Linked DNA regions of Homo sapiens: region 2 is linked to region 1. The links come from fine-mapping of genetic effects on gene expression. Tissue or cell type: whole blood. Region 1 holds a variant in brackets; the other region holds the start of a gene. All regions are shown on one strand. Distances are from middle to middle.

The links. PIP is the estimated chance that this variant, and not a neighbour inherited with it, causes the effect.
Region 2: it holds the start of APOLD1, and the variant in region 1 is fine-mapped to the expression of APOLD1 in whole blood (INTERVAL, PIP 0.98).

The regions. Positions count from the first base shown.
Region 1 is chr12:12,724,775-12,732,879 of GRCh38, reverse strand. LOC105369663 (a long non-coding RNA gene) reads left to right here and starts at 7,757. Exons shown (of 2, transcript XR_931366.4): 1 at 7,757-8,105. It also overlaps a transcript of APOLD1 not described here. RefSeq lists an enhancer at 6,733-7,002 and silencers at 7,383-7,632, 7,973-8,052. The variant G/A (reference allele first, on the strand shown) is at 3,486.
Region 2 is chr12:12,782,526-12,790,630 of GRCh38, reverse strand. It overlaps APOLD1 (apolipoprotein L domain containing 1), which reads right to left and starts at 4,972. Exons shown (of 2, transcript NM_030817.3): 1 at 4,937-4,972; 2 at 1-3,722. The coding sequence starts at 4,939. The coding sequence ends at 2,979. RefSeq lists silencers at 3,446-3,555, 3,586-3,685.

The sequences.
Region 1 (8,105 bases):
TGTTCTTTTTAAAATCTAATATTTAACATTATAGTGATTACTTTGATAAATATATCTTTAGTCATACGTCTGATTATTTCTCAAAATTAAATTCGTAGAAAAGTACATGCTTTTTCTTTTTCTTTTTTCTTTTCTTTTTTTTTTTTTTTTGAGACAGAGTCTCACTCTGTTGCCTAGGCTGGAGTGGAGTGCAGTAGTGTAATCTCTGCTCACTTCAACCTCCGCCTCCCAGGTTTAAGCGATTCTCCTGCCTCAGCCTCCCAAGTAGATGGGATCACAGGCATGCACCACCACACCTGGCTAATTTTTGTACTTTTAGTAGAGACGGGGTTTCGCCATGTTGGCCAGGCTGGTCTCAAACTCCTGACCTCAAGTGATCCTCTCGCCTCAGCCTCCCAAAGTCCTGGGATTACAGGTGTAAAGTTTCCATAACACATTAAGACCAAACCATTTTAACTGTTTTTGCATATTTGAATCTCTTTATTAAATGCCAATTTAAAATATTTATTTTTCTTAACGGTAATAACAGCAGTAATTAACAATCACGGCGCCCAGCTGAAAAGTACATACATTTTAAATGCGCAGTATATAAAATGTGTGTGTATGTAAGGGAGATTTAATATTTTTCTCCAAACGGTTAGCTGTAACCTAACACCATTTATTGCATAGCATAGTTTCTCTCTACTAATTAGACAATTTATGTTTATCATGTAATCAACTCTTCATGAGGCTTTTAAAAGAGAATAGAGAGCTTGAACGAAAAGCCAGAATAAGGTGATGGTTTTGGAGAGACTGGTATCACCAGCAACGTACAGGCATTAAACTTAAAAGCAGGAATGGATGGGGATGTGTTGAGAGCATCAGCCTCTTACATACTTATAGTTGTGCTGGCCTTAAGAGGCTGATTCGGGGGATTTCTATGTACAAAGTAAGGAGATGCCACTAAGCTAAAGATAACATTATTTGGATGGGAGGGATTTTACACTGAACCTGAAAGACGGTCGTGGCTTCCACGCATGCAAACTCTTTGCTTCTTTGGTCACCAATGAAGCTGGAAAAATATCACTAACCCTTAGGTAGAAAGGAGGGAAGCAAGGATTAAACTGTCAAGAAAGAATAATGGCCGTCTTTGTATCTGAGTGCCTCAATTTCCCTATATTTATATATTCTGTATATGGTTTATATCCCAATAGTCTACAATTGAGCATGTTTTCATTTATTAAAAGCCTTTCATATTTTCTTTTCCGATAACTGTGTTCATATCCTTTGCTTATTTTTCTACTGGTTTGTGTTTTCTTCATGGATTTGTAGAAACTCTTTATTTATTGGGGAAATTAACCCTGTGATATGTGGGTTGCAAACATTTTTCCCAATTTGTCATTGCATATGTATGTGGGTGTATGTGCTACTGATTTATTACCACAAATAAATCTATACCAAGTCCTTTCAGAAATCATTGGAAGTGACACTAAATTCAACAAGTGCCTTAAAAAGATTTTATTGTGGTAAAAATACATAAAATTTACCATTTTAACTGTTTTTGCATATCTAATTCTCTTTATTAAATGCCAATTTAAAATATTTGTTTTTCTTAATGGTAGTATCAGCAGTAATTAAAAATAATAAGACATATTGACAAGGTTAACATAGTACTGGCTGTGGTTACTGGGAGAAGACAAAATAAAAACTGGATATCCCCATTAATTTGATTTTTTGTTTGTTTGTTTGTTTGTTTTTTTGAGATGGCGTCTTGCTCTGTCGCCCAGGCTGGAGTGCAGTGGTGCGATCTCGGCCCACTGCAAGCTCCGCCTCCCGGGTTCACGCCATTCTCCTGCCTCAGCCTCCCGAGTAGCTGGGACTACAGGCGCCCGCCACCACGCCCGGCTAATTTTTTTTATTTTTAGTAGAGACGGGGTTTCACCGTGTTAGCCAAGATGGTCTCGATCTCCTGACCTTGTGATCCGCCTGCCTCGGCCTCCCAAAGTGCTGGGATTACAGGCGTGAGCCACTGTGCCTGGCCAATTTGATTGTTTACAAATATGTAATGGTCATTATTATATACCATGTATTGGGCTAAATACAACACATACATTATTCCATCGAATACTTTTAATACCCTATGAGAGTTATAAGCATCCTCATTATATAGACAAAAAAAAAAAAAACTTTTTTCTTTCTTTCTTTTTTTTTTTTTTTTTTAGAGGAAGTCTCAATCTCGTCCCCCAGGCTGGAGCACAATGGCATGATCTCAGCTCACTGCAACCTCTGCCTCCCAGGTTCAAGCGATTCTCCTGCCTCAGCCTCTCCAGTAGCTGGGATTACAGGTGCCTGCCACCACGCCCGGCTAATTTTTGTATTTTTAGTAGAGATGGGGTTTCACCATGTTGTCCAGACTGGTCTCCAATTCCTGACCTCAAGTGATCTGCCCGCCCTGGCCTCCCAAAGTGCTGGCATTACAGGTGTGAGCCACCATGCCTGGCCGAAATAAAATCTTTAAAAGGTGAAGTAACTTGCAAATGGCAGTTCAGTAACTGGACTCAAACCCAGGCAGTAGGATTCCAGAGCCTGAAATTGAACCACTACAGCATCTCACAAATAATATGGCCCAGTACACTGTGTGAGATTCTTTTAGACATACCATGGATGAACTTTAAATTTTTCCAGTGAGCCAGGCATGATGGCTCATGCCTGTAATTTCAGCACTTTGGGAGGCTAAGGCAGGAAGATCACTTGAGACTAGGAGTTCAATACCAGCCTGGACAACATAGCAAGAACCTGTCTGTCTCTCTCTCTCTCTCTCTCACACACACACACACACACACACACACACACACACACACACACACACACACAAAGTTAGCTGGGCATGGTGGTGTGCACCTACAGCCCTAGCTACTTGGGAGGCTAAGGCAGGGGGATCACTTGAGCCCAGGAGGTCGAGGCTGCAATGAGTCATTGCACTCCAGCCTAGGTAACAGAGTGAGACCTGGTCTCAAAAAAAAATGTCCCAGTAGTTGTATATTCTTTTTTATTGTGGTTAAATACAAGTAAGATACAAATTACCATTTAAACCATTGCTTTTTAAATTATTTTTATATTATTATTATTATTATTTTATTTTTTTAGAGCTGCCAGGCTGGAGTGCAGTAGTAAAATCATAGCTCACTGTAGCCTGAGCTGCGGCCCTGAACTCCTGGGATAGAGCAATCCCCTTGCCTCAGCCTCCAGAATAGCTTAACTATTTATTTTTATTTTTTAGAAACAGGTCTTGCTACGTTGTCCAAGCTGGTCTTAAAATCCTGGCCGCAAGAGCTCCTCCCAGCTGAGCACAGTGGCTCACAACTGTAATCTCAACACTTTTGGAGACCAAGGCAGGAGTATCACTTGAGGCCAGGCGTTCAAGACCAGCCTAGGCAACGTAGAGAGATCCTGTCTCTACCAAAAAGAAAAAAAAATTACATCTTATGAATTCTATGTTTATTGTC[G/A]TACTCAGAAAGTCTTTCCCCAACTCTGAGATTTTTTTAAAAATCCTTTGAGGTTTCTCCTTGCATGTCTATGGTTTCATTTCTTTCTACTTCATCCTCTTTAATTCTTCAGGAATTTATCCTGATGTGTGAGATAAGAATCCCACTTTATTTTTTTTTTTAATGCCGACAGAATTATATTTAAAACTAGACAAATTCATTTTAAATCCACATGGGGAAAATGGCAAGCAAAAGAAAACAGGAACATTCTGGGGGAAAAAAAGGAGTAAAGGGACCCATCGAGATGTGGAGGACTCGGCCCACCAGCAATTCAAACATATTCCAAATTTACAGTAATTATATTATGGTCCTGAGTGGACAGACTGCTACAACAAAGGAACGAAACAGGATGATCAGAACCTATTATCAGAATTTAGTGTAAAGAGGTGCAGATGAATTAGGGAGGACTGCCATCTTTGTCATGTTGGGTGTTCCCATCCAAGAATATGGTATACTTTTTCATTGTGCAGGCTTCTGCTAGAGACCCAATCTTAGAATGAGCATACTGCTCTGTCTCCCCACTTTCTTCCTATCTCCTGAAGAGTCGCAGTGAGGCTCTGCCTGTGCAGGTTTTGTGTGGGGTCTAAATAGTTTTTTTTGGCAGAGTCACAACTAACATATTGGAGTTTCCAATCTTTCTCTTTCTTTCTTTTCTTTCTCTCTCTTTTTTTTTTTTTTTTTTTTTTTTTTGAGACAGGGTCTCACTGTTGCCCAGGCCAGCATGCAGTGGCATGATCTCGGCTCACTGCAACCTCAGCCTTCCAGGCTCAAGCAATCCTCCCACCTCAGCTTCCTGAGTAGCTGGGACTACAGGCAGCACCACCACACCTGGTTAAATTTTTTTTTGTTTTTTGTAGAAACGGGGTTTCACCATGTTGCCCAGGCTGGTCCAGAACTCCTGAGTTCAAGCGATCTGCCCGCCTCAGCCTCCCAAAGTGTGCGGATTACAGGTGTAAGCCAATGTGTCCGGCCTCCAGTCTTCCTATTGCCATAATGTGAAAAGCTGTGGTGACCAAGTCTGAGTTCATCAGACATATCTATACTATATTCCCATAGTCTGGGCTTGAACCCTACATTAAGTATTAAACAGGCTGGGCTCAGTGGCTCACACCTGTAATCCCACCACTTTGGGAGGCCAAGGTGTGAGGATTCCTTGAAGTCAGGCATTCAATACCAGCCTGGTCAACATAGCAAGACCCCATCTCTACAAAAGTAAAAAAAAAACTGCTGGATGTGGTGGCACACATCTGTAGTCCAGCTACATGGGAGGCTGAAGTAGAGGATCTCCTGAGCCCAGGAGCTTGAGGCTGCAGTGAGCCATGCTCATGCCCACTGCACTCCAGCCTGTGTGACAGAGTGAGACCTGTCTTTAAAAGAAAAATTAATTAATTAATTAATTAAAGATTAAACAGTAGGTGTTAGATGTTGGCAGAATTCTATTTAAAGGTTTCAGAGATGCTAGGTATGGTGGCTCATGCCTGTCATCTCAGCACTTTGGGAGGCCAAGGCAGGAGAATCATTTGAGGCCAGAAGTTCAAGACCAGCCTGGGCAACGCAGCAAGACTCTCTACAAAGTTAAAAAAAAAAAAAAAAAAGGTTTCAGAGCACACATGTAATTGCAGTGATTCTGGAGGCTGAGTTGGGAGGATTGCATGAGCCCAGGAGTTGGAGGTTGCAGTGAGACATGACCACACCACTGCACTCCAGCCTGGATGACAGGGAGACTCTATCTTTTAAAAAAAATAAGAAGAAGAATAAATAAATAAATAAATAATAAAGCTTTCAGAGGCTGAGTTTGGGTCTCACTTTAATTTGAGAAGTTAGGATGGCAGCTAGAAGTTACCACCTACTCCTCAGTATTAATAGTCACCACTTTTAAAGATGGGGCCTCAAGTTACCACAGGTGATAGTCTTGAACAGTAATGTCCAATAGAAATATAATTTGAGACACATCTGTAAATTGTCTAGTAACTCCACTAAAAAAGTAAAATGGAATAGATGAAATTCATTTTAATAATATATTTTATTTAGCCCAATATGACAAAATATTATTTCAATAGGTAATCAATATTAAAATTATTAATGAAATATTTAACATTTTCTCTTCATACTAATTCTTGGAAACGTGGTGTTTATCTCATATAGCACATCTCAATTTGGACTAGCCACATTCAAGCGCTCAAATAGCCACACAGCTCTACAAGATGCTAATGAGCAAGGAAAGTGGCTTAATTTAGTGGAAATCCAGAAATGCCAAGGTTGGAAATACAGTTTCACAGGGGTCTGGAATAGACTTTGAAATCACTAGTCCAAATACTATTTGATATTTGAATCTTGTCTACAACGTTCCTATCAAGGGGTCATCCAAGACTAGTGCTTGACTCACACTCCAGGGATGGTGAGCTCACTGCTTCCTGAGGCTAGCGTGTCTTCAACTCAAAAAAGTTCTCATTCCATTAAAACACATGTTTTCTTATAGTGTCCACCCTGGTTAGGTGGGTTCCTGGAGGTCAGGAGTGACTAGCGGACTTTTATGATATGGGATTAGAGATTAAGTGAACACAGCCTTGCTAAAGGCATAATCAGGTTGGTTTATGGTCTTTCATGGACCTTAATTAAGAGGTTTGTTAGGCTAAGAAGGATTGGGGGAGTTAAGAACTAAAAAATGTCACCACTGAGTTAGAAACTGTTAGAAGGCTAGTGCTGGATATCTGGTTAAACTCGTCCGATACACTGCAGCAAGACTAAAAGACAAAAAGAAAAAGGTGTGTATCTATGCAAATTTCGCTAATATGGAGATAGAATTTCACTAATACGGACATAGGGACTGAGAGAATCATTTGACTTATTATAAACTTTAAAACATAATTGGGTTCTAATTCATAAAGAATGTCATTTCCATTAGACCTGTATTACAAAAAAGAAAAAAAAAGTCATCCTAAATCTTAACGTACACACGCTTTATCAAAAGAATTTCCGTACCCAGAAATCAAAGGCACTTCAAAAGTCTCATTTCGTATCTTGAGTTTGTTTTAACATATTCCTCCCGCAAAAACGCTCTGGAAATCAAAGAAAACTTTTTTAAAATTTAATTCAATAAAAATGACACCGACTGGCTGAATTATGATGGGTTCTGAGTGGCGGTTGAAATAACACATTTTTCCTCTATTTCCTCTTTTTTTTTTTTTTTTTTTTTTTTGGTTGCGAAGAGGTGTTCTTTTCCGGGCCACCTCCACCCTCCCGCACTCCCCAGTTCTACCTTTCCAAGGCAGGGGAAGGTGCATCCTCGCCAGGCTCCTGCCCGCGCCTTCCGAGTACCCCTGGCCCGCAGCCGGTGACACGGCGCGCGGAACATCCGTGAACGAGTTGGGTTACATCTCTGTCCCCGCGAAGCTGCAGATCGCTGACCGCCCCGCGCACCCCCGCCTGCCTGCACACTGTCAACCGCACTTAGGGGAAATTTTTGGAACAGAAGCTCCGCCCATCCTGCTCCCACTGCCTCCACTAACCGACTCAAAACCCCCACCTCGGGCCGCCGAAGCAGGTTTCGTCACACGATCTGGGGGACTGTATTTTTTACAAGAAAACAAGCATCAAAAAAAAAAAAAAATTCAAACTGCACGCGCCGGCCAATGGGGAAGAAGTGGGAGGTGGGCGGAGGCCGCGCGCGGCGCGCGAGGCGGGGAGGGGCCCCGGGCGGGCGCGGGGGCTGGGGCCGCGGGAGATTCGGCAAACGCGGCGGGCGCCCGGTTCGGGGCTTTTTTTTTTTTTTTTCTCTTCCCAAAACCGACTAGAGCGCGAGACTCCGCCTGAAGCTGCAGCTTCTCGGATCCACCTTAAATCTTCAGCGGACTCAGCGTCGGGGTCAGTGGGCGCAGCCAATGCCAATCAAGTTTACAACCAGCAGCACGGGAGGGAAAAAAAAAATCATCTGCAAGTTCTCCCTACACACAAATACGCGCGCGCACACACGCACACACGTACGCACACACACACAGAAAGAAGGAGGGGGTGGGGGCGGGCGCTCGGGAGAGGGCGAGAATGTTTGTGAAATGCGCGTCCGAGGCTCCGGGGCCGCGGCCGGAGCGCGGGGCAGGCGCGCGGGGAGCGCAGCCCGGCGCGAGCGCCATGATGGTCGCCGCGGTTCGGGGCCCGTTTTCTGGAGGGGGAGCCGCAATGATGCAATCCCCCGGCCGCGCGCCCTGCTCCCTGCCTTTTCTCAACGTTCCTTTAGAGGCGCGTCGAGGTTTCGCGCCCAACGCCTTGATTTCTTTTTGTACTGCTCGCTCCGATGCCTGCTGCTCAGTGTCCCCACGCGTGACAGGCCGGGCGCGCGGGCGGCCGCAGAGGGGCTGGGCCTTACGTGTCAACTCGGCACTTTCGGTTCTGCGGGGTCGGCCTGAGGCGGACCCCACCCCATCCCACCCCAGTCCCCAGGCCAGCCCGGATCCGGGAGGTGGCCGCTGAGGTTTTCCAGCGGGACTGTGGGCCCCTTCCCCACCCCCAGCTGGGCCCGCAGGATTTTTTACCTCCCTTTTGGCTGAGAGGGGGTGGGTGGGCGTAGGGTGTGGCCCAGGTGAA
Region 2 (8,105 bases), 58 kb before region 1:
TTCCTTAGAAATAAAGTGGGCCACTGAAATCATAACTTCAAAAGTCTAGAACTTTTGATACACCCAAAATATGAGAGGAAAAGTTTGCTGCTGCTGTTACTGTTGCTGCTTCCAAAAGTGCCCAGTTTAATTCTAGGGAATAGCTTAGGCATTGGAAGAATATAATTTAAACTTAAGCATTAATAAAAGATGGAGTTAGGGAATGGTTGTACCTTTATGCCATAACACAACTAATAATGTGAAGTACATTCTAAAATGATTTAAAATGATTGTGAAACAAAACAATTCATCTAAAATGAATTGTTTGATCTAAAATGCTAGCATCTGGCCAGGCGAGGTGGCTCATGCCTGTAATCCCAGCACTTTGGGAAGCCAAGGTGGGCGGATCACATAAGGCCAGGAGTTCAAGACCAGCCTGGCCAACATGGCGAAACCCTGTCTCTACTAAAAATACAAAAAATTAGCCGGGTGTGCTGGTGCACATCTGTAATCCCAGCTACTCAGGAGGCTGAGGCAGAAGAATTGCTTGAACCCAGGAGTCGGAGGTTGCAGTGAGCCGAGATCAAACCACTGCAACTCCAGCCTAGGTGACAGAGTGAGACTCTGTCTCAAAAAAAAAAAAAAAATGCTAGCATCTGGGTGAAACAGTCTAGGAGATGACACCAGCTTGAAAAGAAACCAATATAAATTTCAAAATAAACCAGCATACAGACCAATTGCAATTTATAGAAAAAATAAAAATGTAGAAACATCACCTCCTCTCCCCGACCCCAGTACTGAAATTATACTTCCTCAGACATACTGCCCCATCACTGGGAAGGGTGCGGACAGATTGGGTACATTTATAGAATATTAAATAATTAAGTAACAGAGGCACCGTTTTTGCATGTATGGTCCCAAAGACTTTTCAACTTATTTTTCAACATTACAGTTGTTAAGAATGGAAATTGAAGGAATTGTACATATTTTCACTGACAGTTTCTTACAGACCCCAAAGTGAAAATGCAACACATCACCACCATAAGACAAGCGATTTTGTCTGTCACCCAGAAGACATAACTTGATAGGACATCAGGCTTGCAAGTTCTAAGTGCTTCCTTCACATACCTCTAAACTTTTTATCTTTCCTGAACTAAATAGATTCCTTTTCCAGGTCAAGTGATACCTTCTGGCAAAATACCTTCAGGATAAATATGCTTCCTCAGTTATATATCCCACAATGCAAGCTTCCATTACAAGCTTAAACTCAGCTCCTGGTCTTGCCATTCAAGACTCTCCACACTTACTTCAAAGGATCACTTAAAACACTAGAGAAAAAGAATCTCCCTGAAGGAGAGAGACAATCAAGGAAAGCAATGCTATTTCCAGCTCATGCCCTGCCTTAGAAACTCAAACTTAATCTCATCTCTTGCAAAGAGCCTCAGCAGTCTCCCATTTAGAAACTTGCTCTTATTATTTTCTAAATGTGGTGATTAAATAAAATTAAATGCAAACACTAAACAATAATTAAAAATTAAATTACAAACTTAAAATAAATAAAAAATACATGGACTGGCACTTTTCAGAGAAGGTAATAATAGACAAAGGTCAGTTTCAGGAACTTCATATTCCTTTCTGTACCAGTTTCTACAACAGGCGGGAAACACTGCCCCCTAATGGGCTTTTAGTGTTACATCCCTTGTTCATACGGTGAGACACTGCCCCAGGGTGCACGTACGCGTGCTCTCTCTCTCTCTCTCTCATTTTGGCTTCTGGGACACAGTCTGTCCTTGGTCATCTGTGAACGACTCTGAAGACCATGGAGTCCCTAGAGAAGCCGTGAGACTTCGTGAAAGCTCATCAAGGGGATTAGAAGTTAGCATTTGTTGCAGTGATTTTCAAACCTTAGTGTGCCGCAGAACCACCCAGAGAAATTGTTTAAACTCAGGTTGCTGGGCCCCACAGCCAGAGTTTCTGATTCCATAAATCAGGAGGGTTGTGTCCAAGAATTTGCCTTTCTAACAAGTTCCTGGGTGATGTTAATTTGCCATTCCAGGGACTACACTATATGAGCCAGCACCATCATGCTAGGCACTTTGGCTCATTTAATATCTCACAACAGGGTGAGATTTTATCATCTTTGTTTTACACAGTCTCAGAGAGATTAGGTGGCTACACTCACACAGTAGTGACAAAGCCTGTCTCAAGCCCAGGACTGTCTAACTCAAAACCCATCACTCTCTTCTGAACACAATGATGTCGGGAAATGAAGTTGGCAGTCGCTCCATCTATCTGGCCCTCAGCTTCATGTGAGGGAGCAGGACTTAGATGACGGCTTCACGGGCTTCCCCTCTGAGTACTTGGAGGACTGGATTGGGAGCCACTCAGGAAAGGCCTACTTCATACCCAGGCCGCATCTGGGAGTAAGTAAGCTGAGGGGAAAGGGAAGAGGAGGAGATATCAGCACCAGGGTCCTCTCTGGGTTCTGAACCATCCTACAACGTTCAGAGAAGGGCTGATTTGCTCTGGATTCTGGAGTTCTTTGTATCAGAAATTCTGGAATAGAGGCAAACGCCTTCCTCACGCACATTTTGAGGACTTCAAAGACTAGTAGGACTTGGAGAGGACCCAGAGGATGGCACTCTCTCCAGTCTCAGGCCAAGCCACCAGGGCAGGGTCAGGGACCCCGAAATAACTTTAAAACAGGAGTGCCTGCCCAGCTGTGTTTAGACAGAAAGTTTTTGATAAAGGAAAAAGAGTTTTTGGGTCACATTTTTCCACTAGGAAGACTGAAAAGTCCGTAGCACTCAAGCCCAGGCAGATGTCACAGTGATGGGAAAAGAAGGGCTTTGGGGACCTGCCCACTTCAAAAACAGTTTTTCTCATCCTTTGCCTTCGGCTCCTAACCCAGCTTGGTGTTTTCCTAAGGGAGCTACAAATTCTGGAGCATCCCATGAGGATGATTTGCTGGCCTCGGTCATTAGGGGGAAAGGATGTTCTCAGAAAAACAGCCCTGCACGCTGGTCAGCAGAGATCTTGAGGTCGTGGCCACGACTGGACTTGGTGCAGAGCTGAACCCGAGACTCCAGCTGCTCGCTGAGTTCGTCCAGAGCCCCGGTGCAGGACTCCAGGCTCTCGGCCAGTTTCTGAATCTTGGCCTTCAGCACGGCCTGGCTAACCTTGGTGTCCCCCTCCGCCCGCCTGGGGATGAGGAAGCCACGTGAGCCAAAGAAGACGATGAAGTAGACAGAATTGTACAGGGCGATGGAGGCGTTCCTCCCGCACTGCAGCAGCTGGCGGTCCCCGCAGCCCTGCCAGCGGCAGAAAAACTCGAGGCAGCTCAGGATCTCTCGCATCTGGTCCTGGCAGGTGGCCGCGATCTCCTGCACCCTCCGCAGCTCCCGGGAGTTGCAGAAGATCAGCGAGAGATCGGACGTGATGGTGACGGCCCCTCCGGCTGTGGCCACCCCCAGCCCCACGGCCGACACCAGCAGCGAGGTCCCCAGGGTGACCGGGCTGAGCGAGAGCCCCACGATGGCGGCGAGGGCGCCCGTTGCGCTCAGCGAGCTGCCGGCCACGTTGGCTACGAGGGAGCGCCTGCGCAGGCGCTCCAGGCGCCGGGCCACCTCGCGCAGGCGCAGCACCTGGCCGTGCAGCCGGCCTCGGCGGTCCAGCAGCAGTCCCTGGAAGCGCCGCAGCGCGTCGGGCCCATGCGGCTCCCGGGCCGCCGGCCTCTCCATTCCCTGCGGGGACATAGACACGCGGTCAGCCTGGAGTCTCCGTGCCAGCCGCCGCTCCCGCCCTGCTGCCCGGACGCCAGCGGGAACTTGGCACGAGTTCAGCGGAGCAGCCACTGCCACGCTAGGGGAACGGGTCTGTTTCCAGTGGATCATGAGACGAGTTCTCAAAGACCTGTTCTGGAATCCGGGGGGAGCCACACAAGTTCTCAGGACCTTATCTCTGCATATGGAAATAGGAATAATGCTATCTTCTGCTTCTCTCCCAGGGAACGTTAACGATGGGCTTCATCAGCTATGTGTTAAATAAGATTTAAACTGGGAGGGGCGTGGTATTAGAAGGCTTCTCCAGTACTGAGGCCTTTGCTCTACTTAAGATAACACTTTGTAAGTGGTGGGTTGTACAGTTTACAAAGCCCTTTCATCATGTGAAAATTGGATCCTAGGAGTTTTGCAACACACTTTTCTCTCTCTCTAATGAATGAAAAAGACTTCACCAAAACCTCAAAAATCGTATTTTCTACCAAGCAGAAGAAACATCTAAGTTAGATGCTTGCCTGAAGCAACTCTTCTGCTTGTGATTCTTCCAGGCTCTTTTCTTAGAATCAAGCCTAAAATGAGATTTGCACTGTTTATTCTAACTAGGGCTCCTTGGATCTTCAGAAACATCAGTCTTTGCTGGGTGCTTGATTTAAACTAAGTCACATTAAATTAATACCATTATGTCTCTTTGTTATGAAAGTTTTCTTTTAAAAATGAGTAATGGTTGAATAAAATAAAGTGGCCAAAATTTTTGTTCAACAACTTCTACCACGTTGAAGCCAACTGAAGATGACTGACAAAGATACGAACAAGTTGTACATCTTGGGGGAAAAGTATATTCATCCTAGTTGCAGATTCCCACCTTCATGTCCACTGTACTCTTCATTATTAGGAACTTCTTAAAAGTGGCAAATGAGCCATAGAAATAGAGCATTTCAAAACTGAGCTATCAGGGCAGAAATCATTCTCATCTGGAAGAATTGCCTGCATCAGACATCAGATTCTAGAAGCAGCTGATTCTTCACAGAGCCCAGTCTAGAATCCTCATCTCCTTATTCACAGGACTTAATTTTACTTCCATGCTTCCATAATCCAACCCACCAGGGATAATTTTCCAGGTGAAAAGAGAAAATGAGAAAAAGTCATCCCGAATATATGCCTCAGGGTTCCCCACTTACCATTCACTTCTGTCTGCCTCCAGGAAAGTAAAATCTGAGGCTGTTTCTGGATGAGTGTGCTTTATAGTTCCAGAGAACCAATGGCTGCCCTGGGAAAGCCTTGTCTCATTCTGAGAATTTGCCATTTCCTGTCATGACCCCTGCTGCCTTCATCTAGAAGGACGTGACATGGTGGAAAATGACCTGCCAGCACAGCACATCCCGTATTTAGGAAACGAACATTGTGTGTTCGCTTTCCCCTGAACGCAGGAAGAGAACCACAGGCTCTTCCCTAACTTGAAACAAGTGTGTTGTCATTCTCCCAGTGGGATACCCTGCCTTTCCTGAGAATAGCTAATGACGCGATAGAGAAGGCCTTCAAACGCACCCCAGGCTGACCAATTATAGTGTTTCTTGAGGCCACCATTACAAAATCATATTTTAAAAGAAAAGGGAGGGGGTGGAAAACCCTCATATCTGACATAGCCGCTCATACTCCACTGCTGTATTTTTAAAAGCGTTGTGAATCTGTGAGTGGCTGGAGCCTGGGATCATTTGGCATGCAGCGGGTACCCTGCAGTCCTAAGAATGCAAGGCCACACCCACAGGAAGTGCTGCGTGCAGTTTTGGGCATCTCCAGCTGTGGAGAAGACATTGGCGGTCTCAGAAAGGGCACACTCCAGGTCACATGCATCAGAAAAATCAGTGGGGTCAGGCTGCATGAGGAGCTAATTGTACACTTTCAACCACAATAGGGCATTGGCTTCCCAGGTTTTCATTTGAAGTAGCAATTGTAGCCCATGTGATAGGGAAATGAGTGGATTCTGTCTACAGGGTCATGAGGCATGGGCTGAAGGGCAATTATTTTGATAATTCAGCACAGAAAAGTGAATGTAGCTTCTGTGGACTTGCTGCAGACCAGACCAGATGGAACATAGATATCTCTGGGGCATTCAGAGGTGGTTGGAGCTCAGCCTAGGAATTCAGTCCTACTACATGTCCCCAAATCCATCCATCGTCCTTCTAACCCTCTCCTCCAGATAAGGAGGGCCAAATTCGTTTCTCACTTGAATAAGGATTATCTCAACTCTCTGGCTTACCTGGAAAGCCTTAACAGCCGTATCATTCTGGAACATGATTAAATCCCCCACCTTTATGACTATACTTTGTATTTATCAACACAGTATAACAACAGTAGCAACAGAAAGGACAACCATAGTCCTTTCAAACTTGATTATTCTAGATTTGGTCCACTTCCAAATATTCTTGTTACAGCTCCTCAAAGGATAGCTGTAACCTCAATCTAGATGCCTCCAGTGTGTCCTTTTGAGGTTAGAAGTGGAAGAATATCCTCCTCTATCTCCATAGACATGGTCACTCCAAATGGGATGTGGGCCAGCGCGAATTGGGGAGGTAGACAAGAGGGAACATACCACTGATTCTTCAGCTGACACATGTTCCTCTAACTTCCCTGGACATCATCCTGTGTGTTTTGGGTTTAGAGGAACACAATTAAATCTTTATTTTATAGATGAGGAATATTGCTGGGATACAGGGTCTTCCTCAGAGCATCAATATCATAGTACAGAGGTGGGATGAAGAACCAGAAGGTAGAGGAAAATAGACAGCGTGTATACTGACCTCAGCCCATATCTTGGAATTTGTTTTTCTCTGTGTTGAAAGCCCATTTTCTTTGTATTTGCCTCTTTATGGAGGCAAAAAAAATTGAGTTAATTGACAGTTTGGGCTAAAGTTTTACTGCCCATAAAAACCTGGTACTTTGGCCAGTCATGGTGGCCCATGCCTATAATCCCAGCACTTTGGGAGGCAGAGGAGGGAGGGTCGCTTGAAGTCAGGAGTTCGAGACCAGCCTGGTTGACATAATGAGACCCCATCTTTACAAAAAATTTAAAAATTGGCCGGGCATAGTGACTCACACCTGTAGTCCTAGCTATTCAGGACGCTGAGGCAGGAGGATCACTTGCACCCAGGAGGTCAAGGCTGCAGTGAGCTATAATGGTACCACTGCAACACAGCCTGGATGATAGAGACCTTGTCTCAAAAAAAAAGCAAAAAAAAAAAAAACAAAAAAAAACCAACTGGGGCCGGGTGCAGTGGCTCACCCCTGTAATCCCAGCACTTTGGGAGGCTAAGGCTGGTGGATCACCTGAGGTCAGGAGTTCGAGACCAGCCTGACCAACATGGTAAGACCCCGTCTCTACTAAAAATACAAAAAAAACAGCTGTGTGTGGTGGCGTGCTCCTGTAGTCCCAGCTACTCAGGAGACTGAGGCAGGAGGATCACTTGAACCTGGGAGGCAGCAGTTGCAGTGAGCCGAGATCACACCGCTGCACTCCAGCCTGGGTAACGGAGTAAAACTCTGTCTCCAAAAACAAACAAACAAACAAACAAAAAACCCAACTGGTACTTCACCTTGTTTATAAGAACTGACACTTGAACTTAGCGATTCAATTCAGCATTTGTTTACTTTTATTTATTTATTTATTTTTGAGACGGCGTCTCAGTCTGTCGCCCAGGCTAGAGTACAGTGGCATGATCTCAGCTCACTGCAATCTCCGCCTCCCAGATTCAAGCAATTCTCCTGCCTCAGCCTCCCGAGAAGCTGGGATTACAGGCGTGCACCACTACACCTGGCTAATTTTTGTATTTTTAGTAGAGACGGGGTTTCGCCATGTTGGACAGGCTGGTCTCGAACTCCTGACCCCGGGTGATCCACCTGCCCCAGCCTCCCAAAGTGCTGGGATTACAGGCATGAGCCACCATGCCCAGCCAGCATTTGTTTAATTTCATATAGTAAAGACACAATAACAAATTTTAGGAACAAATGAAGGCATTTTGTTCAAAAGTTCTGTGTGGTCAGTTTCCACAAAAAAAAATCTGTGGACCACATCCTCAGACTTCTCTTTTAAATTGTTTGTTGGGCACTTCCAACACATCACCCTAGAGAGACTACACTGAAAATGGTAGTTGGCCTTCAAACTAGCCTTCAGATCTGTTCAACTCTTTTTTTGTTTTGTTTTGTTTTGTTGAGGCAGGGTCTCACTCTGTCACTCAAGTGGGAGTGCAATGGCACCATCACGCCTCACCGCAGCCTTGACCTCCTGAGATCAAGCAATCCTCCTGCCTTATTTTTTGACTTTTTGTAGAGACAAGTTGTCACTGTGTTAAA